Homo sapiens: one gene and its partners. The protein of the gene in region 4 interacts with the protein of the main gene of each other region in a biochemical or structural test. Each region holds a gene or a part of one and is shown on either strand. Other genes may lie near its edges.

Region 1 (2,459 bases), on a different chromosome or scaffold from region 4:
AATGCTCAGCCGAACTGATTTTGCATTTGAACAGAATATGGCTTCCCACCTCAAACCCCTCTGGAGAGGAGAGGAGTGTATGATGTATGCATTGGGGGGAATAGATTGTATTGTCAGATTTCAAGGTGCCTTATGCATTTATTTAACAGTCTGGACTACACTCTATCCCACTTTGCCTCCCCAGTAACTAATGCATTCCACTGAGATTTGTATCCTGCAGAGAATTAGCTCCTGGAGCAATTACAGTGGCATGTATTTCCCCACAGGATCATCCAGAGTCGCAGCTAGGTTTTAGAGTTCTTCTTGGCAACCCCTTTAGTATCATGATCATCCCTGATGGAGATTCTTGGTTTGCGCTGTTGCTGTCCTCCCTCACCTGCCATCGTGACCTGCATGTGGCTTGTTTAGAGCTTGGATGGCCACCCAAGCCCACCTGCCCCCCATTTCCACCACCATTCAACTCCCTTTATGCTGAGGTAAATGATGAGGCACGGCATTGATTATGTTTATCCATTTATTAAAATATTTAAAGAAGCAATACTTTATTAACATTGAGGACTGGTGTTCCATTTGGCGGGGGGAGAGGAATAGGCACACTTTGTGGATCTTTTTTTTCTGCTTTTTCCTGTTACCATGTAAATACCCCAGCTTCCTCCCCCAACCAGCCCCTGGCCCTGCTGCTTATTTGCAGGGGCCTCTGAGGAAATAAAAAACACAGAGCAGAAAACAACAATGGGTTACAGATTCACTGACAAATAGACAAATGCAATTCCACAAATCATATAGCCAAGCAAGGTCTCATATAGGATGGAATGGTGCTAATGGGTTTGGTTGCTTTGGTATTATTTTCCACCTCTCGTGAAAGAAAAATTCTTCCATTTGTGTCCTGAGGGAAGATGACGTTGACCCTGACTGTTTCTTCTGGCCCAGTTTTATTAAGGTAAAAAATCTCTTTCTTATTCTTAACCTGCTCTTATGGACACAGCACAGGGCCTTTCTGGAGAAGGGGACCCATAACTGTTTACCTCCTATAGTATTGACACCAGAAGCAGTTGGTGGCAGTTCAAATGTATCGGCTTTTTCTTCTCCACTATTCTTCTGGCCAGGAATTGCCTACCCAACCAATTCGTCAGAAAGTGCTACCAAAGATACAACCAAACCCTAGAGCTTTGGGTCTTAATGATGTCTGAACATAATTGAGATGGATATTTGGTGTTTGGTCCCACCACCCAAGCAATTGTATTAATTACTGCAAGTGGTTAACAAAGTCCTTAAAGGAGCTCACACTCCCAGAGCTAAGACAACTCCCTTGAGGCATCACTTCTTGCTTTGTTTCCAAGTGAGCATATGCAAGAACAGGTGCTTGGCAAGCTATCTTCCTTTTTGGGAAACTACTGGTAACTTAGCAATTTAGGAGGTAACTGAGGGATTGAGCAAGCCACACCTGCTCCTGGGCCTTGTCATCTATCAACTGTGCTCCATGAGCTGACTCTAGCCCCAAATACTAGTGGTTTCAGTCAATATCATTCTGACTCAGAGTGGGAGGACAGGGTAGGTGAAAGGGAATCCACATGGCACAACAGAGCAACAGCAGCATCACTGTGCACAAAGACCTAATTATTGCAGCAAAGTAAGCACAAGAGATGGAGTCTTATTACAGTTTACTATCATCAGTGATAAAAATAATTATAAGACACAGCCCTGCTTAGTCACTGCCAAGATAAAGCTATCTTCTCCCAGGACTTCCTTCTGTAGTCCTAAATTTGCTCATTTGGACATTTTCCCCTTCGGAAAAAGCTCTTCTGAAGAAAATGCAACTTGGTTCCCACTCTGTGAGTGTGTGTGCAGGTGTCAATGCATGCAGCCATAGAGGAGCCAAGTCAGGCTGCAATAGTGAGCTTGCTGATTTCATCTAATACCTCCTCCTGGGAAGAAAGACTAATAACAGAGAAAGTCAAAGACACAACAACAGCACACTCACTACTCAAATATGTACAACAAGCTAACACATTCTGATGCTTAAATAAGTTTTAAATGTTTTCTGTCATCTTTTTCCATTGACTTTCTTCTCTAGTTGTAGAGCTAGGACTTAGTTTGGCACAGCAATCAGACATTTGGGGACTATCCCCTTGTTAATATTTTTCTCCTCACCCCTGCGGAGGTGGAGCACAGGTGGCTGGTTTAAGTGGGTTAGGCTGGTGGAGTTCCAGAGTTGAGAACCAGTGCTTGGAATCTGAATTGTGCACCTCAATGAACCAGCCATTGGACTGAATCAGGTAATTGAGCACGCTAAGTTTGTCTGAGAAGTAGGGAGAGGCCAGTTTTCTCTTGATAAGTGGGAAGGGACAGTTAACTAAAGGTATGAGTCAAGGGTGGGGTGAAGATGCAAGGCTGACCAGAGAGAACCTCTCTGGGCATTGGGGTTTGATTAGATTTGCCCTGACTGGGAGAAGGCATTT
Region 2 (4,187 bases), on a different chromosome or scaffold from region 4:
GCTGCTGTCACGGCCACCAGGACCCAATTGCCCCAAGTTTGCTGCCCCTCCGGTTAGGATGTTGCACAGGCCTCCAGCTTCATGTGGTCCCACCCTCAGGCATTTCTGTCCCTCCTACCCTGGCCTCTAGGTCCGGCTGACCCCACTCGGCCCAGTGGGGCGCGGCCTCTCTAGCACCTGTCCATCCAACCTCAGTGAAGGCAAACTCAAGCTACAATGATGCCCTTGTACTCCGGTAATTCTGCCCGTCAAACTTCGGACTCAGTCACATAATCGGGGGGAGGACTTGCTTTTGCAAATCATGCAGCACACATCAGCCAGCTCCGTTTGCAAGGTGGCCAGGGATTTGGCTCTGCGGCCTTCACTGGGGCAGTTTTGGCCCCCAGGGCACATTTGCCAACGTCTGGGGACACTGCTGGTAGTCAGGAGTCCTGGCTACTGGTTGGCAAGGCTGCTGGAGAGACCTGTTATCTGGATCAAGGTCCCTAGGGCTGCGGTAGGGAAATCCTAGGCAGCTAAGCAGAGAGCCACCCTGCGCGGTGGGGGCGGGGAAGTGCACCTGGCCCTCCCACCTGGACATAGCTGGTTCAGCCCAAAGTGCATTCCAGTCACTCCCCAGCTCCGGCTCTGAATGAGACATCCCATAAACCCAGCTGCTGTCCCTGGCTCTGCTGCCACTCACGGGGTTCCCCCAAAGGGTGGGAATCAGAGCCTGCCTCTGACAGGTGCCCGTGTGGGTGACAGGTCTCCTGCCACCCGTTCACCCGCTGTAGGACAGACACACAGACAGTGCCCTCTGAATGCCCTGTCATCCACTGTCTTCTGCCCCTCCCCAAACTTCTGGAAGGTGGGTATTTTCCCGGGCAGGTAAGGAAACCAGGTGCAGAGGGAATGTGGCCTGCGGGGGTGGGACTGCTGGCCAGGCCCTGTCCTGACCTGGATGGCTGTCCCCAAATGGGGACCGGGGGGAGTGGGGGTTCTGGCCTCAGCCAGGGAGTCACTAGAAATAAGGACGCTGCTCCAGACGGATGGTCCCCTGTGCTAAGGACAGGAGCAGCCCAGATCCATCTGGAAACCAAAACTAAAACTCAGACCCAAACTCGCGGGGAGCGCCTGCGCCTGGATCACAACGTGAACACAGATGGCCATCCTCAGGATGGGGACCTGCGCGTCACATGTGAGCTGTGGGGACCCTGGCACGCCGCTTCTCACTGCTTCACCTCTGTGCCTCAGTTTCCTCATGTGTAGGTGGAAAGTGCTTCCCACATAGGGTGGTCCTGTGGGTCAGAGATGGCCCCCGAAGAGCCAGCGACCTCAGGGAGGCCCCCCAACAAGGGTTTCTCCCCAGTGTCCAGGTGGAGGGAGGGCCCATCCCACCCTCCAGGTGACTTTGGTCCAGGTGACTTACTTCTTCCAGGAAGCCCCCAAGACACCTCCCTTCCAGCAAGACTGGGGTGGGTGAGGAGTGCCTACCTTCAGCCCATGGCTCCTGCTCTGGACAGTACCTTTCATCTCACCCTGTTCCCCTCTGCTGGCTGTGGGCATCGCACAGCAGGGTCCACGTCTGCCTGGCACACTTGTGGGTCAACATCTTCTAACTCAACACTCCTACTAGTCCCATTTTACGGATGAGGAAACCGAGGCCCCAAGAGCTGCTTAGTTCACAAAGAGCCAGGATGTGAGCCTGAAACCCACACACCTGGGAACTATGCCACGGAGGGGTCAGGACCTGCAGCCAGGCACAGCACCTGGACCCTCTTGCTGGACCCCCAGCCAGGCCCACACGCACCCCCTAGGCCCCCATGTTAGGTGGTGCACAGACTGTTCCCCTCAAGGACACAGAGAAGATTCAGGCCTTGATTCAGGTCAGAAGCAGAGGTCACCAAGACCTGCCATCGCTGCCACTCCCTCAGTCCCCCCACCTGCTCAAATCTCAAAAGGGATACTGTTCCCATTTCACAGACGCAGAAAGAGGCTGAGCGGCCAAGACAAGCGGCCACGGCTCCCTGGTAGGTGGGACGCACCCCTCCCCCTCCCCATCTCCCTTCTCAGGGGAGACAAAGCAGGTCCCTCCCTGCCACCGCCCACCAAGGTCAAGGGTGGGGGAGGGGCGTATGGTTTGGGTTTGTCTTGGGTGTGGGGTTCTTCCTTCTCGGGGCTTTTCTGAAATTTTGGGGCCAAAGCAGGTTTGGGTGTCAGATTCCCCAAAGAGCTCCCGGGAGGGTCGTTCTGTTCCGCCCCCCACCCCATGCTCTTTCAAACTCCCTGGGGCTTCCAGAGTCCTCGGCGCTCAAGTCTGAACCCAGGTTCCGGTTGCATGGAAGTTTTCCTTTAGGAAGAGGAAGCGGCCACTCGGGGTCAAGAGAGGGCAGCGAGCGAGCGGGCGGGGGCAAGCAGGGGGCTGCCTGGTGTGTGTGGGGGGGCGGGTCCAAAGTCGCATCCGGCTCAGCCCGCGAGCCCCGCCTCTCCCGCCCCGGCGGAGCCCCAGGAGGGTCGCGAAGTTGTTGCGGCTGCCGGGGCGGGGCTTGCGGGAAAAGCGAGGGGGAGGAGAAGCGCCCCGGGTTCCCGGCGCCTCCCCCGGGCTAATCCCCCCACCCGGCTCCCCCGAGCCCCGACTCACCTGTCCCCCGGCTCACCTGTCCCCCAGGCTCACCTGCGCCGCGGGGCGGAGGGACGGAGGGGCGGCGCGCTGGCGGTGCAGCTTCCAGCGCCGGGTCCTGTCCTGTCCTGCAGCCGCTTCGCTCCTGCGGCAGCGCGGTCCGGCCCGGGGCGCCTCCTCCGCTTCCTGCGCGGTCTGGCTGGAGGGCGGCGGCTGCGGCCCCGCAGGTGGGCGCTGGGCGGGCGGGGCTGCTCCGGGTCCGAGGGCCCGGGCGGGGAGGGCCGGGGAGGGGGCGGGGCGCGTCCCGGGCACCTGTGGCGGCGCCGCCTGCGTCACAGGTCACAGCCCCACCTGGGCCGGCTGGAGCCCACGTGATCGCCCGGACTGGATCGCGCCTCTCGATTCCCGCCGAGCCGCCGCCGCCCGGTGCCTGCGCCTTCCCTCCCCGCGCCCACGCCCCCTCGAGGCCGGCCCGGGAGTCGCCTGCCAGGCGTGGGGCCAGAGCGGCTCGGCTCCCTCCTGCGTCACTGTCCTTCCAGGCCCCGCTCCACTGCCTCCTCCAGGAAGCCTTCGGGGAAGGAGACCAGCCCTGCGGGGACCGATGTTTGCTGTAGAAAGGCCCGGCCCTCTGGATTCTTGGAAGCCAGGCGGCCAAAGACAGCCAAGAGGGCGCAAAGCACTCTGGCCACCTTTTTGGTGTGGTTGAGTCGCGGTCATCCCCATTTCACAGAGAAGGACCGAGTCCTGGAAAGGAAGGCGCTCGCCCTCGTGCACAAGGCTGAGCCTGGACTCCGAGCCTGGCCTTTCCTTGCTCCGCCTGCTGGGAACCCGTGTGAAAGTGAGGGAGGGCCCCGGGCAGAGGCTGCAGCAGCCCCCCAGCTGGGGGTTCAGGAATCAGGCCACCTGGTGCTGTGGGAGGGGCTGGGGGCTGAGCCAAGCCTCCCAAGCTTGGGCCTGGCCATTCAGGAATGTGACCTGAGGTCCCAGGGCTCAGACCCACTTCTGACCTGCCTCCATCATCCCCTTTTCAGGAAAGGCCTGTTGCCAAAGGCCTCCATGTGAACATCCACACTGGGCTTTGGGTCAGCTTCTACCAGCGTCCCCTCACTGACCCCAGGCCTTGGGGTCGTGGGCCGGGCACCGGTGTGCCAGCCAGAGGCACTGACCACCCTCCTCCCAGGACCTGCCTCCCTGGCCTGGGCGGCCGTGAGATCCCGTTGCGGGTTGAGGAGACACCACAGGCTCTGGGGCTGTCACTTGGCATTTTCTCAGGTGTCATAGGTAGAGGGGCGGCCTGCCCTGCCCCTCCTGCTCTGGTCGCCCCACCCACTAGTCCCCCAATGTCTGCCCTGTGGCTGGGGCTGCCTGGGTGTCAGGTGCCATCTGGGCAGGGCACAGGCTGGCCTCAGGGATGGGTCCCGTGGGCCATCCATCCCCTGGGAGGGAGGGTGGATGAGGGAGGAGCTAAGAGTTGACCCCTGTGGGCTGCAGCCTCCACCTGGAGCCGCCTGTGGGGAGGTTCCACTTCCAGGCAGCTCTTGGGAAAGGCAGGTGGCTGCTGCCCTCCTGAGTCCATGATGGGTACTGC
Region 3 (3,500 bases), on a different chromosome or scaffold from region 4:
TTGCATTTTTAGTTTCTGTTTTTCATTGGTATTGACTTTTCCATTCCTAACCCCCCTTCTACGATAATTATGTCTGCCACTTTCTGATTATTAAGCTGCTATAGATTTGGGGAAATGGGTAATTTTATCTGCCATAAGACTAATTAGATTCTGAGTCAGGACCTGGTAGTTTTCCTTTGAGTTAAAGTTATTACCTGTAGTTGGGCTTTATGACATTTGTTTTGATTGGCTGTATTCTGAATAGTACAGCTTGCTGGAAAATTAACAAATATATTAGGATTACCTTCTCTACATCATAAGGCTATTGTGAGACTCAAATGATATAGTAGCCATAAAACACGCTTCAAAAGAATTCAAAAGTAAAGAGGATAAGGGATGACTTTCTTCATATTCACTACCATTAGTATTAATAAATATTTTTTGTTGCCACCAATGAAATTCGGGCAGAGTCAATGCCATAAATTCCCTATAAGTGAATATATTTTAGTCATAAGAAAAACAGACATTACTGAAGAGATTCTTAGATAATAGCAACCATTTGCCTAGAGAGATCCAGGAACACCTTGGGTCCCTAATGGTTCCTGGCCCATCAGGAATGAAATAGATACAGATGCTGGTGATGATGATGATGATGATGATGATGATGATGATGACAATGGAGATGAGGATAATTATAATTATTGTTAATCTATATTGAATGCTTACTATTTTCAGGGCACTGATTCAAGAATTTTATACAAATTAACTCTTTTAATCCTCAAAACAACCCTATCCTACCTCATGCTATTATCATTTTTATTTTACAGATGAGGACACAGGCACAGAGGGGATAAGAAACTTGTTTAAGACCAGATAAATAAAATAAAATTGAGTTTTGACCTGCCGTAAAAATAAACATTTGTCAGGTTTCATGTATTCTGAGCACTAGAATGCACTTAAAATTGCTAGTTTCTTTATGAAATCATAATTTTCTGGCAAAATTCTCATACATTTTCCTCCTTCGTAAACTACATTCTTCATGGTAGTCAAGGGCCTTAAACGATAGGCACTATATTTTATTATTTTAGAGCCACTCTACCTAACAATGTTTTGAATGCAAAAGGTACAATACATATTGACAGAATGTATAAAGAACACTTTTATACCCAAGCTCCCCTAAGAGTATTGTGAAATATCTTTATAACAATTGATCATCTTGGTTTCTACTAATTCAATTTGGACATATGTTTTACAGAATCTATATAACTTGTGTTTCAGTATGTAACTGAATTATTACGTCAAAAAGATATGCTCTATAAAAGTACAGGAAGCATTTAAAACATATATTGACCACTTTGGTATGAATATAATTTTAATAATATCATAAAATTGTTATAACTTTGGACAATATATCCACCTACAGAGGCCCACAGTATTACTATATTAATATTGTAAATCTGGAAACCATCATAGGCTTCAATATAAATGGAACTGATGTACTTACAAGATTTATTACTTCTCAGAATGACACGCTGGGGGGAATTTGACGATCTCTATCGTATTAGTGAGCTGGACAGGACCCAGATTCCTATGTCTGAAAAAAGGAATTCCCAGGAAGGTCAGTATCAAAATCTTATTGATTGGGAGACTTAATTTTTAATTAGTGTAAAGTATGACTCCATATGTTTCTCTGAAATCTAACCTTTTTCATACTACTACACAATAAACTCTTGTTTTATATGTATATATATTTTTAAATATCTTAGGAGCATAGTAACTTAAGTCACTATAGTGCTTGTATGATGTTTAAGAACCTTACTTTGGTATATAAAAATATAATTCTTAAAAAAATTATATTATGTCACTTAGATTTATTAGAATAGGGAGAGCTAATAGTTTTAATAAAGTTTGTATTCATAAAATTGTTAAATATCTTCCCCAAAGATTAGAGTCATTTATTATTCCCAATAGCTTTATATGTTAGGCCAAGCCCATCAGACCTAATTCTGTATCTTTTTAGAAGTTGAACGTTTTAGTTAGTTAATAGATATGTCAATAACATTACTTCTCAGAAAGACACAGATATGCTGGAGTCAATTTTATATTTGATAGAGTTATTTCAGAGATCTTTTTAAAAGAGAAATATACTTAAGGATCAAATGGATCCATACTGAACTTGGCAAACCAATGGGAAATGCCAGCTCCAGGGATGTGTGACATTAGTAGTTATAATCATAATGGTGATGATGTGAGAGTAATAATAGTGATATTGATAGCTGTAATCTGATGAGACTCTGGTAAGTATCAGGCATAATATTTTGTACTTTATATGAATTTTTTCATGTAATTCTCATAAACACATAAGATTCAAAGAGTAGTGGATGCTGATGACTGAAGCTAGAATGAGGGGTGGTGGACAGGGTTCATGTGCCTGAAATGGGGCTGTGATTTACGAAGTCAGTTCAGTGTGAACAAAGGTATCCCACTAGCATTAACTTCATAAGCCTACCAGCAACTTGCAATGTTTGTTCTCTTTTTTTTTTTTTCAAATCATTCTCAATTCTGCCTCGTCTGCTATTCCACAGGAACCCAGATCCTGTGACAAACATGATGTTCCTTCCAGGGTTCCCTTTTCTCTTTATGCCATGGGATCTTTACATCTTGTTAAATATCGGCCCTTCCAATTATCTTTTAGAAATATATATGAAACCCAAGGAAATCCCAGTATCTTGGCATCAAAGACATCATAAAAATATATTTGTATTTAAACAGCAGTGCTAGAGAAGGAAGAAATATCTCATGCCTATTTGATAATGTTCTAATTACAGTAGAAAATTTTTTAAAATCCTAAAGTAAAATAAAACACAAATGCCACCACATGGTCTTATTCTTACATATGAATATGCATAGGAGAGGAAATTGAAAAAGGTACTATCAATTGTATACAAGCAGAAAGGGGGGCAGAAGGCAGGTTTGAATCTTCTGCATCTTAGGCTAGTAACACATTGTAGCTCAATTCAATTCCATTTAAACACCTTCTGCCTACTCAATAGATACTAGAGTTGTTCAACGCTACACTATAATTTTATACTCTAAAATCTGCTATAGAAATTGTAATAATTCAGTAACCAAATTTTGACTAATCAATTATGAATCATTGTTAAATATACATGACTCAATGAGAAGAAATAATAGGATAGTGGACAACTAAGTGAAAAAGTCATTCATATCATACATCTGGAATGTTCTAAAAAGAACATAATGTGATATATTACAAATAGTAGGACTAGTCCAAAGCATACTATTCCTTTTGCTTTTATAAAAGATGGGAACAAAATCTTTCAATGCTCCACATACCATATAAATAGCTTCTCAAAGAGCTTTCTGTAGTTTTATAGGAAAACTAAGGCCCAGTGTTTATTTTTTAGGAAAAGCTCCAAAGAACTTGGGCCAACATATAATGGGGTGGGGGGAGGGGGGAGGGATAGCATTAGGAGATATACCTAATGCTAAATGACGAG
Region 4 (3,500 bases):
AAAGGTGAGCTTCAGGCCTGGGGCAGGGAGGACCACGGGGGCCGGGCCAAGGCCACCAAGCACACCGGCTCCCAACCGCCTGCCCGCCCCCGACATCTCCCCTCCCAGTGCTGGAGAACGTGGAGGGGCTGCCTTCTCCAGGCAGCCAGGCCGCGGAGGATTTGCAGCAGGACATCAACGCGCAGTCCCTGGAGAAAGTTCAGCAGTATTACCGCAAACTCAGGTATCCGCCTGGGGTCCCCGTTGGGGGCAGGAGTCAGGAAACCTCCACGTGGAGTGGGCATTAGCATGGAAGGTGCCAGGCGGACCCCCAGCATGGGCAGTGGGCCGCACACCCTTTCTTGAGCACCTTCTGTGTGACAGCACTCTTGCCTGCGTGAGATTCTCAATGGCAGCAGGCCATGGATCCCACTTTACAGAGGAGGCGACTGAGGCCCAGAAAGTGTACACACTTGCCCAAGGTCACACAGCCAGGCAGTGGCTGAGCTTTGAACTGGGGTCTGTTTGGTTTCAAAGTGGGTCTTTCCTACTGAGAGGAGCCGGCTTCATTCTACAGAGGGTGGGAGCTAGGACAGGGGACCTTGGGACTCTTGGGCCTGTGAGTGAGGGGTGCGGCTCCCAGGGTCTTGGCTGCTCAGAAGAGAACCCCAGGGGAGGAGGGGTGAGAGCAGGAGCCAGGTATCACCAGGAGGAACCACAGGTTCTGGGAGGCAGCTTCTAAGTTCTGCAGCTCCCACTCCTACCACCCTCCCCCACAGCCCTTCCTGCGTGTGTCTCACCACCTCCCTCTGTGACAGAGGCAGGCCGAGAATTAAGACCCCAGGGAGATGAGTACGGGTCTGGGCTTCATCATTTGGAAATGAGAGAATGAGGCTTCATTCGTTTGCTCAGAGAAAGCATCCAGCCCAGTTACTGAAAACTGGCATCTGTTTGGATTGATCAGGGCTGTCATCAGTCTGTTCTGCGCCATCTGTGGAATACTCTGAGTCCTGCCTGTGTGATGATTCATTCATCCCTTCATTCACACATGTTGAGGCCTTCTGCGGGCCGGGCACTGTTCCGGGTGCTTGTTTGGGAATGTGCAGTGAGCAAAACAAAGTCCTGTTCTTCATGGAGCATATATTCTAGAGCAGGGGTTGTCAAAATCTGGCCCTCCTTGTCTCCCTGTTTTGTAAATAAAGTTTTATTAGCACACCTGCATTCACTCATTTTCACATCCTCTGTGGCTGCTTTTGTGCTGCAATGGCAGAGCTGAGTGGCCGCGATCGAGACTTTCCAGTGCACAAAGCATAAAATGTTTACCGTTGGGCTCTTCACAGAAGAAGTTCGCTGACCCCTGTTCTGGAGGGGGAGACGAACAGTAAACCAGTAAGCCCAGAGCCATGAGATGCCAAGTGGTGAGAAGTGCTCAGAAGAGAGAAAAAGCAGGACCAGGGCCTGGGGAGCAGAGGGCTGGGGGCTGCTGTGGACGGGCAGGCAGGGAGGGGTGGCATTGGAGGAGTGCTCAGGAGGCCCCTCTTTCCCCCCCGGCTGTTGTAGGAACAGGTGCCTGCGGGTGAGCACAGCCTGCAGGCGCTCTCAGGGATTTCATTCTGAGAGTCGGCAGAGGGCGGAGTCACGGTGGCTGCAGGAGTTGAGACCTGGGTAGGGGCAGGAGGATGGTGGGTGTGGTGGCCCCCGCCTCATTCCCATCTTTCTCTCGCAGGGCATTTTACCTGGAGCGGTCTAACCTGCCCACGGATGCCAGCACCACGGCGGTAAAGATAGACCAGGTATGTCCACGTGCCCTCCTGCTGCAGGGAGCTTGGGCAGGGTGGGGCGCTCAGGAGTCAGGACTCAGCAGACAGGCCCAGGGTTGTGCCCCAGCAGATTCTAGCCCCAAAGCCCTTGAGACCCTGCAGTCTCTCCTCCTCCAGGAAGTCTCCCATGATAGCTTCCTCCCCATTCCCAACTTCCTGGGATGATTTATTTTCGCTGGCAGCCGCCCATCTCTGCCACTCCAATCCGCCTTATTAACCACAGCATTTCTCTGAGGCTGGAGCCTGGACCTCATGACAGATGTAACCTGTATGGTATTCTTTTTGTTTATGTGTTTCAAATTTGCTGTCAACCTTTAGAAATCAAAAGATTTCCCATAAAAACAGAGGCTTCCAGCTTTTCTGGAGGAATGGGAAGATCTGGCTGTTGGGGACCATGTTGCCACATGTCCCCGTTGCTCCGAGCTGGGAGCAGCTCCCTCTGAGGGGCCTCGATAGTTCGGCTCCTTGGGCTCCTTGCCTCTGACCCTCAACACATGTCTTTTGGCCTCCTGGTTTTCTAGGGTCAGGCAGGCCTTGAATGTGCTGATGATTTTGGGGTGCTGTCTTGGGGCTGTGAGCTGGGGGCTCCGGGAGGAGGGTGGGCACAGCCGTTTGGGACTTTCCACTCTGGCTGGCAGAATGTCCCCGCAGCACAGCTCGTTAGTGAACCACCCCTTGCACCTCCACGTGGGGGTCAGGGAATGCTGGGGGCAGAAGGGAAGGCTTTTTCTGGAGAGGGGGCGCTTGTGTTGGTCTTGACAGGCTGGGAGAGGGCACTTTCTTCAGGCTTCACTGGGGACACACCTGGGCAGGTGAAGAGAATTAGGTTGGAAGGTTAGACCTGAAATATATGGTCAACACTGACTGCCAGCTTGTAGGGCAGTGGGGAGCCACAGAGGGTTCTTGAGCAGAGGTTATAGAAGATTGAATTGCATTGTTATCCCCAGAGGGGTGAGCTGGGAGGCAGCTGCAGGAACAGCTGGATTAGAAGGATATGGTGGGGGAGGAGGGCCAGATGGGGGCTGAGGGGCTGTGAGGACCTCCTCCAACTCCCCGGTTATGTGTGGTACCCCCTACAGCTGATCCGCCCCATCAATGCCCTGGATGAGCTCTGCCGCCTCATGAAGTCCTTTGTCCACCCAAAGCCTGGTGCTGCTGGGAGTGTGGGCGCCGGCCTCATCCCCATCTCCTCGGAGCTCTGCTACCGCCTGGGGGCCTGCCAGATGGTCATGTGTGGCACAGGCATGCAGAGGTGAGCTGCTGCCCGCTGAGTCGGGGTGTGGGGAGGGGCTGGCCTAGCTTCTGGTCAGTTTGGGGTCCTGTGGCAAGGAGGCAGGAAGGCTGGGTTCCAATCCTGGTTCTGCCATTGCCTGTAGAGCCTTGGCTCTGTCTGCACCTCAGTTTGTCTGTCTGTGAAACGGAATGGCAGCAGCAGGTGGTCCTAGCAGGGCTGTGGAGCCACCTGCTTCTCTAACGCCGTAGTGAGTGTGTGTGAGAGCTGTGCCCTGTAGTTCCGCCGGAAGCCTCCTTCAACATTAACAATAGCAATGGCTGGTTTATGGGGCCTGCTGACCTCACTGGAGGCTCCCCTGCCTCCTACCTCCATCCTTTGTCCCCAGTGCTCATCCCAGGGAGGAAGAGGTCACCTTCTCCAGAGTGCTTCCTGACCTTCCGTTACAAACTGTGCCCACTCTCCCCACT
Region 5 (3,500 bases), on a different chromosome or scaffold from region 4:
CTTCACCTGCACGGAATACCTGCCTGTTACTCTGCAGTCGGAGGCCTGGGCTTGGGTTGGTGCCTCAGTGGACAGGACTGTGCCGGCCAGGCATGTGTGCCCAGGGCTCCGTTGGTGCGTGAAGCTCAAAGGCTGTGTTTGTGTAAGGCTGTGTCTGGGCCCTATCCCCACCCCACTGAGCCTCCTGCCCCCAACCAGGCAGAAAGGAGGGGCCCCAGAGGGAGAGGCCTCACCTTGAGGGGGTGCAGCATCCCCTTGCAGTGACCTGCAACAGAGCATGATGTGCTGTGACCGGCTACGGCACAGGCCAGCTGGTCGCCCTCCCCAACCCCAACTGGGGGCATCTTCATCCTTTCCACAGTTTATTGAGTGCCTGCTACACACCAAGCACTATTCCAGGCACTGGGGATACAGCAGGGAAACGAGACAGAGGAAGGCCTTGCCCTCATGGAGCTTACATTCTAGTTCAGGGATACAAACAAGTCAAATAAATAAGGAGTTCTGAGAGCAGGGGTGCTCTTAAGAATTCAGAACAGGTGATGTGGCACCCCTGCAGAGGGGGTCCTGGGAGTGATCTCTCCAAGGAGGAAACAGCCAAGCTGAGATTCGAAGGGGATGGGGGTGGGGGAGCTCCGGAAAGATGGGGGAAGAGTTGGAGGCAGCGATGACAGAAGTCCAGTGGTGGCAAACACCTGATGCCTCAAAGAACCAAGAGAAGAGAGTGGGGCAGGACCATGGAGGTGAACTCAGGGAGGGGGCTGGGAGCCCAGTGCAATGACGGGGGGCCTGGGGAGAATCCACGTCCAAAGGGCTGCTGAGAAAGAAGCTTCTAGGTTGGGGAGTGGCCTGGTATGCTCTGCATTTTTAGTTGACCGTGGTATGGAGATGGGGGTTCGAGGGCACGAATGGCCACAGGGATATAAGAGCTGGGGGCCAGGGCGTGGCAGCCGGGAAGGGCTGGTGGCAGTAGGGGTGGGGAGGAGTGCTCAGGTGGTGGGTCCGGGGGCTGCCAGGACTGGCTGAAGGATGAGGTCCAGAGGAGGGAGAAGTCAGGGAGGGAACCAGGGTGGACGTGAGGCCGCTTCCCCACAGAACCACAGGGCTGAAGGCCGTCAGGTGGGCTTTGGCCAGGTTCAGGTTGACACCATTTAGTTAACTGGTGGAGGGGCTAGAAGCAGGGATTCAGAAGTCATCGGCTTACAGGTGGGGCTGAAAGCCAGGGGCTGGAGGGACGGGACACCAGGACTCACCGGGGCGTGGGTGAGCAGGGTGAGGTGGGGAGAGGGGAAGTGGGGGTTGGGAGGTCAGGCCGGGCCGATGCCCCCAGCAGCTCAGGGTCCAGGATATAAATCTCATCCTGTGCGATCTCAGTCACATAGTTGAGGTGCTCCTGTGGGGGGAGGTCAGGGCGGGAGGTCAGGGCACCTGACGGTGGGGGCCGAGGGGCAGCAAGGCTGGTAGACCTGGAGAAGCCTCTGCCATGAGCACAAACACTGAAAGGAGGTGGCCAGGCAAGGGGCCCTGCCTGTCCCTCTCCCACTCCTTCCCATTCCTGACACCTCCTCCGACTGCCCAGACTTTACCAGGTGAGCTGGCGCCTGACCAGAATGCCTTTGCTTCTGTGTCTCCCTGGATGGCTCTGGGCTTCCAGGCCCTCCTACCCACCCAGCAAGCCTTTGGTAGGTACCCCACTGCCTTTCTGGCTGGCACCGCCCTATACTCTCCAGTGTGGAGGGCAGGGCCGCACGCTGTCCATGCACACAGGCAATAGTAAAAGCTCTCAGAGGCATGAGGACAGAGGTGAGCCCATCGGGGGAGCTAACAGGGAAGGCGTCCCAGGAGAGGCGACCCTGGGGCCCGGAAGCAGCTGTGGCTGGAGCAGGCCTGCAATCGCTCACCTGGGCTCGGTCGATCCTGTAGAAGCGGCTGGCAGTGGTGGCTGTGGGAGAGAGGGCAGCTGAGGATCAGGGAGTGCCATGTCCAGGCCCAGGTCCTCTGCTGCCCCTACCTGGGATCCCCTAGGGAGGGAACACGAAACAGCTTGGCACCCTGGGAGTAGACTCACCGTCCAGGAAGCACCACTTGGGGGACAGTTTCTGGCATGTCGGGGACTTGGCTCCAGCACCATCGGGCTCCTGTTGAGAGAAGCAAAGGCCAGGCTGGGATAGAGTGGGGGCCAGGGAGGGAAGGGAACTTGGAGTAGGGGGAACCAGCACAGAGGAGGCTCCGCAGGGCGAGCTGGCTGCGGGAGGAAGAGGCCTGGCCTCACTTCCCACCACCCTCTCGGTGGGCACCTGGGGAAGCCCCCACCCCTTACCTGCTGGAGTCTCTCAATGTGGGCACGGCAGAGCTCTAGGTCACTGTCTCCTGGGACCACCACAGTGCCCAGCGGCACAGCTGGAGAACAGAGCACCTGTCAGCAGCTGGCTGCACCCCACAGCCCTGCCCAAGGGGGCCCCGGCTGCTTCAGCCCCTCCTGGCCACCCTGCCAGGCCGCCCCACCGCACTCACAGGCCTCCTTGAGCTGCTCCTTGTCGTAGTGCAGGGCCTCATAGTCGTGCATGCTGACGCGACTCACCTGGATGCGCAACTGCTCTGGCACCGGCTGCTGGCTGTCGGGCAGGGCCGGCAAGCGGGGGCTCAGCAAGGGCCCTGCCTTGGTGCCACCCTCGGCCTGGCACCAAACCACTTGCCGAGAGAAGGTCCCGCTCCACTCCCAACACCCCTGGGGCAGAGGGACAGTCAGCCCCTTTTACAGATGGGGAAATCAAGGCCCAGAGAGGGCAGGGTCTGGCCTTGGCACCCAGGGCACGTGGCAGGGTGGGACGTACTCGCTGTGCAGGGGGGCGGCGCTCCGCCGCTTGGCCTTCTGCACCATGGTGGCCTGGTTGCGCAGGGCGATGCGGATGCGTGAGGCTGCAAGCTTGCAGGGCTCGCCATCCACCTGCACCGGGATGGCCTTGGATGTGGTGAGCACCACCTCGCGACACTGCGTCAGCCGCTCGCCGTGTCCGCCCACCTGCAGCGCGGCCTGTGGGCACAGGAAGCTTGGGTCAGATGGCACCAGGGCTGGGGGCAGGGGGGTCCCAGACTCTGCTCCTTCCGAAGCAGAAACTCTAGCCAGAGAACAAAGGTGAGAGTGACCCCTGGCCAGAGGGCAGAGGGGAGGCTGAGACCCCAGGTAGGAAAGGGAAGGGACAGAGGCAATGAGGGTGACGCTCCAGTCAGAGTGGGGAGTGAAGGTATCCCGAGGCATAGTGAGGAGAGGGGGTAGGTGCCGCTCTCAAGCCAGAGGAATGAGACAAAGAAGGGAGGTGAGGGTGAACTAGGCCGCCGTGGCCCATGGAGGTGAGTATGGGTGACCCCTTCCACCTTTGGGCTGTGCTCCCAGGCACCATGGGCCCAGGGCCCACTCACCAACGACGTCATGGTGAAGCCAATGACCTCGAGGTAGCCGTCGTCATGCCGCTGGGGCTCAAAGTCGTGGTGCTCCCCAGGGT
Region 6 (3,500 bases), on a different chromosome or scaffold from region 4:
GTGGGGTCATGCCAGGGTGATCTCTGCACTCCCGTTCTGCAGGCCGAGGCAGGGCAGGGCGATCCCCGGGGCCCTTGGCTGGGGTCCGGGTGCCGTGCCTGCGGTGTGACCCCTCAAGAACCAGGTGTCAGGGACTGTGGCATGTCTGGTGGCCTCTCCCGCTTGGGGGTCGGCCTTCTGTGACCCAGATGAAGACTCTTGATGCCAATGTGTGCAAGTCAACACGGGCACAGCCAGACACGGGGACCCGTTCCTCATTCTCTGCACAGAACTCGCCCTTCACATTTCTCTTCCGTGTGGGGTTTGATTCCCATCTCTTGAAGGATTCCCCCAGGAGAGGAAGCTGGCTGTAGGGACGCCAAGGTTTTGTTTTGTTTTGTTTAATAACCACAGTTGGGTTGCCAGTAAATTTAAGATGGATTAGTCAGCTGACTCCAGAATGCATTTTCAATGTTTTGAGCAGTACTTGAGACCTTCCAAGTCTGCCATCAGAAGTGTTCATTCATGGCTGGGTGTGGTGGCTCACGCCTGTAATCCCAGCCCTTTGGGAGGCCAAGGTGGGTGGATTACTTGAGGCCCAGAGTTCAAGACCAACCTGGCCAACATGGCAAAACCCCGTCTCTATTAAAAATGCCAAAAAAATTAGCTGAGCGCGGTGATGCACACCTGTAATCCCAGCTACTCAGGAGGCTGAGGCAGGAGAATCGCTTGGACCCAGGAGGCAGAGGTTGCAGTGAGCTGAGATCGTGCCAGTGCACTCCAGCCTGGGCGACAGAGCAAGACTGTCTCAAAAAAAATAAATATTCATTTATTCATTGATGTTATTCATTCATTCATTCATGTTCCCCTCCTTACCTTCTGTCCCACTCCCAGGGTCTCGCCATTTCTGCTTCTTCTGGGTCCTTGTTCAGCAGCTCCTCAGTGAGCACCTACTAGGGCCCTGTTTCCCCTCATGGGGGACACTAAGATGAGCAGGGGTTGTCCTGACCTCAGGCAGGTGTTGTTACCTCGGGCAGGTTCCCCCACCCCTGTGAGTCTGTTCCCTCCTGCCTGGGCCTCCGGGGACGATGGTGAGAATGGAATGAGATGGTGTTTGTCCAGCCCAGGAAGCGGTGCCCAGGCCCCTGCCTTCCAGCGAGCTCTTTGCAGCACCAGCTCCAGCGCCATCGCCTCGGTTCTGGCCTGTGTGCCCCGTGGCTTACGCCACTTCCAGCTGTAGGCGAACAGTGGTCGAACTTTGGGATTGGAAATTTCCAGATGGAAGGAGCAGTCCACGCCTTCATTCCCTGCTTCAGTCCCCTCTCTGGCTGTCCACCTTGGCTTTAGCTCCTTCCTGAATTGGGACCTCTGGAGGTGGCCTGTTCTTCCAGAGAGCCATTTAAAGCTGCACTGCCTGGTTGAGTAGCCCCTGGCTACAGGCAACACATAAAACAAGAATTGCCCAAACCCACGAGAGCATAGGCGCAATAATGCCATTGTAGATTTCAAAGGCTTAAGACGGAAACAGTGTGAAACATTCATTCATTTTTCATACTGGTTGTACGTTGAAAATGATAACATTTTTGATGGGTTAAATCAAATGTGTTATTAAAATTAATTTCAGCCAGGTGCAGTGGCTTATGTCTGTAATCCCAGCACTTTGGGAGGCCAAGGTGGGCAGGTGGCTTGAACCCAGGAATTCAAGAGCAGCCTGACCAACATGGCGAAACCTTGTCTCTACTAAAAATACAAAAATTAGCTGGGCGTGGTGGCGGGTGCTTGTAATTCCAGCTACTTCGGAGGCTGAGGCAGGAGAATTGCTTGAACCCGTGAGGTGGAGGTTGCAGTGAGCCAAGATCACACCACTGTACTCCAGCCTGGGCGACAGAATGAGACTTTGTCTCAGAAAATAATAATAATAATAAAAATTAATTAATTAAAAAGAGCCAGACATGATGGCTCACACCTGTGATCCTAGCTACTAGGAAGGCTGAGGTGGGAGGATCACTTGAGGACAGGAGTTGGAGGCTGCAGTGAGCTGTAATCGTGCCGCTGCACCCCAGCTTGGGAGGTAGAGCAGGACCCTGTCTCTAAATAAATGAAGTGAGTTCACCTGTTCTTTTTAAACATGGGTACTAGAAGATTTTAATTTGTGCGCATGGTTTACATTCCATTGCTTGTGCACAGCAATGGGTTCCTGTGTGCATTGCGCTTAGTTGTCTGTTACTCCAGGATCTGGTTCTGAGTCAAGGCATTTGTGAAAATAGCTTACTGTCGAAATTTCCTCTGAAGATTCCTTGAATCACCCAATAAAGTGCAATGTACTTGCTTGTTTAAATTGTTAGAAATTTTTTATTGTGTAGAAACAAGGTCTTGCTCTGTCACCCAGGCTGGAGTACATTGTCACGATCATGGCTCACTGCAGTCTCGACCTCCTGGGCTCAGCCTCCTGAGTAACTAGAACTACAGGCATGAGCCACTGTGCTCGGCTATAGGTCTCACTTTGTTGCCCAGGCTGGTCATGCTTATTTTTTGTTTTTTTTGTTTTTTGGTTTGTTTTGTTTTGAGACAGAGCCTCCCTCTGCTGCCCAGGCTGGAGTGCAGTGGCAAGATCTCAGTTCACTGCAATCTCCCCCTCCCGGGTTCAAGCAGTTCTCGTGTCTCAGCCTCCCAAGTAGCTGGGACTGCAAACGTGCACCACCGTGCCTACCTGATGCAGCTTTTGTGCTGAGCCTTCTGCCCTCTACTCTTGGTTCTCATTCTGTGCTCTGAGGCTGCTCAGAACGCTTGTTCCTCTATCTCCTGCAAAGACAGACATCTTGGCCCGGGCTCCGTTCACCCGATCCCAGCTTCCTCGTCTCCTCCCGACATGGTCCGGAGCTCGTGCGTTAGGAAGGAGGTCTCCCGGCCGCGTGCAATGGCTCACGCCTATAATCCCAGCACTTTGAGAGGCTGAGGCAGGCGGATCACTCAATGTCAGGAGTTGGAGACCAGCCTGACCAACATGGCGAAACCCTGTCTCTACTGAAAATACAAAAATTAGCCGGGCATGGTGGCGGGAGCCTGTAATCTCAGCTACTTGGGAGGCTGAGGCAGGAGAATCTCTTGAACCCGGGAGGCCAAGGTTGCAGGGAGCCGAGATCGCGCCACTGCATTCCAGCCTGAGCAACAGAGGGAGACTCCGTCTCAAAAAAAAAAGAAAAAGAAAAGAAAAAGACGGAGGCTTCCTGGGTCCTTTGAGCTGCAGCTTATCCTTGAGGTCCTGAGGTCTGCTAGACTTGTTGAGACAGGATCAAGGCAGCGTCCTCAGTTCCCGGGGAGCCGCCCTGGATTCTGGTCATTGGTGTGTCTATGGGGGTACACAGCATGGATCCTTTCCTTCTACACCATGAACCCCTCAAGTGCAGGAATCCAGTCTGTGTCCTCCTGGGGGCCGATGCACCACGGCCACATAGCAAACGGCCAGATGGAGTCTCCCTAGGTAGCTAACCCCTACCCTGGGGGGTCTCTGCAGGGCAAAC
Region 7 (3,500 bases), on a different chromosome or scaffold from region 4:
ATAAAGTATAGGATGTGATGACTGAAATTACAAGGAAATACAGAAACATTTGGGGACATCCATTGTCTTTCTGACATCTTCCCACTATGCCTGAGGAATTTCCGGATTTAGAAGCTGCAATTCCCACACAAGTGCAGTTGTAAAATATCTGTAACACGATAGGGAAAAGTCCAATTATTTCAGTAACATTTAAATAAAGTTAAAGACAGTTATGTTAAAAATGTTTACCGTAGCCATGCATTATGTAAACAATGAGGAAATATTCTTTTATTTTTTTGTATTACAGTATATTGAGCAAAGCAAAATCTATATAGATACAACATTTCATTATCTAAAGAGCAGATGACTATCTACAAACTACTAATCCTGTACAACAATCTCCCAGCAAATCCTGCCTAATCTAACCATACCTTACCTCCTTCGCTACCACTTCCAATGCTAAGTAACCATGATTTCTTGCCTAGATTGTTACAATGCTCCCTTTATGCGCAACTTGTTTCCAATCTTATCTAGCTAGTATCTGCTTTCCACCCAGTAAGTAAAGTGAACCTTTAAACATGGCAGTCAGACTGCATCACTACCCTCAACCTGCCAGTGGTTTCTCATCATACTTGCATGAAACCCCACATCCTTATAACAGTTTACACTTTCTCCATCATGTAGCACCTGGATGCCACTCTAATCTCACCATTCAGTGATCTTCCCTCTCTTCTTCTGTGTAAGCCACACACATGACCCTTGCAAAGGCCCCATTTTGCCCTTTCCAAACATCCCCTCAAACCTGGCAAGTTCATCCATGCCTCACGGCCCTGCTATTTTCTCTGCCCGGGCAGCTCTTCTCTTCGGTGATTACACAGCTGGCGTCCATACTTTAGTTCTCCGTTTAGAGGTTTTAATAGAGACCTTCTATGACTATCCATTTAAAAAAAAAAACAAAAAAAAACAACTCCCATCTCTCCATCTTCTTATTCTAATGTATGTCTTTTTTTTACAGTGCTTCTTACTACCTATCAGGATATCCTGTATTTACTTATTTTTAAAACATACTTTCCCAACAGAATGTAACCTCCATGAAAGCAGAAACTGCTGCTTTGTTATTATGCAACTGGGGAATGGAATAGACTCTCATTTTAGGCATTTGATAAAACTTAGTTAAGTAAATGGGAACAATTTGAGGATATGACATAATTTACAGTGGCTATGAGAAAAAAATAATTCTGGTGCATAAAACTCAACTAAATTTTGACTGAAGAGAGACAATTTGTATAACCCCTCAATAGTTTATTTCTGTAAATTTTATTTATGAATGCATATATATAATGTTATCATTTTTAATCACAAAAGAGTTTGTGAGTTTTTAGACCATAAATAAAGCTGGCATTTACTTTTCTAGAAAGAGTGGCAATATAGATTTTTTGTAATGTCAAGTTGAAACCTTTGAATCTTAATTCTGGTCGCTCACTAGATAAATGAGTTAAGCAAGTCCTTTGTATCTCAGTGCCTCAGTTCTCACATGAAGAAAATACTGAAAATAATGCAAATTATTTCAGGACCATGAGATTTAAATGTAATTTTGTTCTTTTAACACCAATCTTTAACCTTTCCTTGTAATGTCTTTTATAAATGGTAGCTCTCATTACAAAAAAACCTTCATGCAGCTGTGAGCAAAAATAACAGTAGCTGAAAGAAAAATAACAAAGGAAGAAAGCAAAGAAAAGAAAAAAAGAGAAGCATGAAAACATGTTTCAGATGAGTAGGTAGTCTTATTCATTGTTGCTAGAAACCAATCCTTTCTGCTGTAAATAAGTCAAAATAATAATACAATGAACAGAGTAAATTAACAAACTTAACTGTATATCTGTGGATATACAGCCTAAGTATTCATATCCAGTTGATAAGGATATATAAATAAATGAGATACATGGGTGGTCTAATTTTCTGCCCTCTAGGATTGTCAAATAAAGGCAAATTTAATCAGTCACAAATAGAAAGCAGTCTCAGAGAGCAAGGATAAGGAAGAGTCTGTTTGGGACAGGAATGGAAAGGTGTGCTGAGAAGGGTGAATCTGTTAATGATTGAAGTACTTTACATCCTTCACAATTGCTTTCTGTTAAGGATTGAATATTTTCCCAAAATTCATATGTTGAAATCCTAACCTTCAATGTGATGGTATTTGGAGTAAAGCATTTAGGAGGTAATTAGTTCATGAGGGTGTAGCCCTCATGAATGTGATTTTAGTGCCCTTATAAGAAGAGACAGGAGACCTGTCTCTCCCTGTCTGCTCTCTGCCATGTGAGGATAAAAGGTGAAGATGGTCATCTGCAAACCAGAAAGTGGGTCCTCACTAGGAACCAGTTCTGCTGGCACCTTGATCTTGGACTTCCCATCATCCAGAACTATGAGAAATAAATGTTTGTTGTTTAAGCCACCCATTCTATGGTATATTTGTTATAGCAGCCTGGACTGACTAAAATAGATTCCTACCTATATTTCCTACCTCATCTCCCTCTTCTGCCCTATGGAAACCCTCCATTCCAGCCCACCTGCCCTTTCATTATTATACAAATTGGCTTGATTTTCCAAAGTTGTCCTAGAACCATCAACCTCCTCATTATCAGATCCCTGACCCCAAGGTCTAGAATCTCTGGAGCTAAGCCTCCTAATACTGGCCTCTATTTGTTCATTCCCTAAAACCTCCAAGGACCACGGATCTTAGGGCCAGGGGACATGGATCTGAAAGCATATCTTATTATGATGATCATACGACAGACATTCTAATTCAGGGCTAACACTTCTTATAAGCAAAATGAGAGAAATAGACTACATAATTACAAAATCTCTTCCACCCTATTTGATGACTCTAATTCTCACCCTAATTTTTTCAGCAACTCCAGTACCACTAGGAATGGTTATAACATTTTCTTTTTCTACAAAAAAGGACCAGGCAGAGGTAAGAGGCAAGCCTCCTACTAGTAGTGGTCTGCTGTGAGCCCCCATAGAGTTTTGTTGTTTATATTGTAACAGGACCATCGCCATATACTTGAGAGGTGATTTCTTACAATATTTTTTCCACTCCTGTTGGAGGTTTGACAACCAGCAAGACAAGCTGATACATATGTGATTCCATTTTCACCGCACATGGGTTCCCATTTTGTCTCTGAACATTTGCATCTTGAGTTGCAATCTGAAAAGAGAGCTCGTTCATGATAAGAGACAGGTTTGGTTCTGAAAAGAAATATAACAATATAAAATATTACCTCTTAGCAGGTAGCACCCGAATATTTTCAAAAAATCAATGTTCTTGAGTGATATAAATGATACTATGAACAAAATTTGCCTTTTAGAAACACAGTTGTCATCAGAAATGGCAGCTTCTGGTCATGAAATGTGAGTTTACTAATAAACAGCTTTCTCTTGAAAGTTATCTTTAGAGGTTTACAAATTCACATGATGTCCAGTTCTTAGCTTATAGCTTTCAGTCTACAGCCTCTAGGATCTTC

The links.
Region 1: the proteins of PREX1 (region 4) and DGKK interact in a test that uses a peptide from one of them, tested with the Homo sapiens proteins (one large-scale study listed by IntAct).
Region 2: the proteins of PREX1 (region 4) and ARHGEF16 interact in a test that uses a peptide from one of them, tested with the Homo sapiens proteins (one large-scale study listed by IntAct).
Region 3: the proteins of PREX1 (region 4) and RASSF6 interact in a test that uses a peptide from one of them, tested with the Homo sapiens proteins (one large-scale study listed by IntAct).
Region 5: the proteins of PREX1 (region 4) and DGKZ interact in a test that uses a peptide from one of them, tested with the Homo sapiens proteins (one large-scale study listed by IntAct).
Region 6: the proteins of PREX1 (region 4) and MAP2K2 interact in a test that uses a peptide from one of them, tested with the Homo sapiens proteins (one large-scale study listed by IntAct).
Region 7: the proteins of PREX1 (region 4) and SLCO1C1 interact in a test that uses a peptide from one of them, tested with the Homo sapiens proteins (one large-scale study listed by IntAct).

Annotation. Positions count from the first base shown.
Region 1 is NC_000023.11:50,364,909-50,367,367, forward strand, and holds the end of DGKK (diacylglycerol kinase kappa), read right to left. Parts: 3' UTR 501-2,459; downstream 1-500. UniProt on the Homo sapiens protein: Diacylglycerol kinase that converts diacylglycerol/DAG into phosphatidic acid/phosphatidate/PA and regulates the respective levels of these two bioactive lipids.
Region 2 is NC_000001.11:3,453,278-3,457,464, reverse strand, and holds the start of ARHGEF16 (rho guanine nucleotide exchange factor 16), read right to left. Parts: upstream 2,801-4,187; 5' UTR 2,654-2,800; exon of another isoform or gene 2,637-2,653; intron 30-2,636; exon of another isoform or gene 1-29. UniProt on the Homo sapiens protein: Guanyl-nucleotide exchange factor of the RHOG GTPase stimulating the exchange of RHOG-associated GDP for GTP. May play a role in chemotactic cell migration by mediating the activation of RAC1 by EPHA2.
Region 3 is NC_000004.12:73,585,937-73,589,436, reverse strand, and holds part of RASSF6 (ras association domain-containing protein 6), read left to right. Parts: intron 1-1,502; coding exon 1,503-1,597; intron 1,598-3,500.
Region 4 is NC_000020.11:48,629,000-48,632,499, reverse strand, and holds part of PREX1 (phosphatidylinositol 3,4,5-trisphosphate-dependent Rac exchanger 1 protein), read left to right. Parts: coding exon 1-4; intron 5-108; coding exon 109-223; intron 224-1,705; coding exon 1,706-1,772; intron 1,773-2,878; coding exon 2,879-3,051; intron 3,052-3,500.
Region 5 is NC_000011.10:46,374,963-46,378,462, reverse strand, and holds part of DGKZ (diacylglycerol kinase zeta), read right to left. Parts: coding exon 3,418-3,500; intron 3,032-3,417; coding exon 2,832-3,031; intron 2,613-2,831; coding exon 2,512-2,612; intron 2,398-2,511; coding exon 2,318-2,397; intron 2,136-2,317; coding exon 2,066-2,135; intron 2,062-2,065; exon of another isoform or gene 1,979-2,061; intron 1,940-1,978; coding exon 1,899-1,939; intron 1,391-1,898; coding exon 1,251-1,390; intron 266-1,250; coding exon 234-265; intron 7-233; coding exon 1-6. UniProt on the Homo sapiens protein: Diacylglycerol kinase that converts diacylglycerol/DAG into phosphatidic acid/phosphatidate/PA and regulates the respective levels of these two bioactive lipids.
Region 6 is NC_000019.10:4,117,623-4,121,122, reverse strand, and holds part of MAP2K2 (dual specificity mitogen-activated protein kinase kinase 2), read left to right. Parts: intron 1-3,493; coding exon 3,494-3,500. UniProt on the Homo sapiens protein: Catalyzes the concomitant phosphorylation of a threonine and a tyrosine residue in a Thr-Glu-Tyr sequence located in MAP kinases. Activates the ERK1 and ERK2 MAP kinases.
Region 7 is NC_000012.12:20,736,832-20,740,331, reverse strand, and holds part of SLCO1C1 (solute carrier organic anion transporter family member 1C1), read right to left. Parts: intron 3,226-3,500; coding exon 3,060-3,225; intron 149-3,059; coding exon 1-148. UniProt on the Homo sapiens protein: Mediates the Na(+)-independent high affinity transport of organic anions such as the thyroid hormones L-thyroxine (T4), L-thyroxine sulfate (T4S), and 3,3',5'-triiodo-L-thyronine (reverse T3, rT3) at the plasma membrane.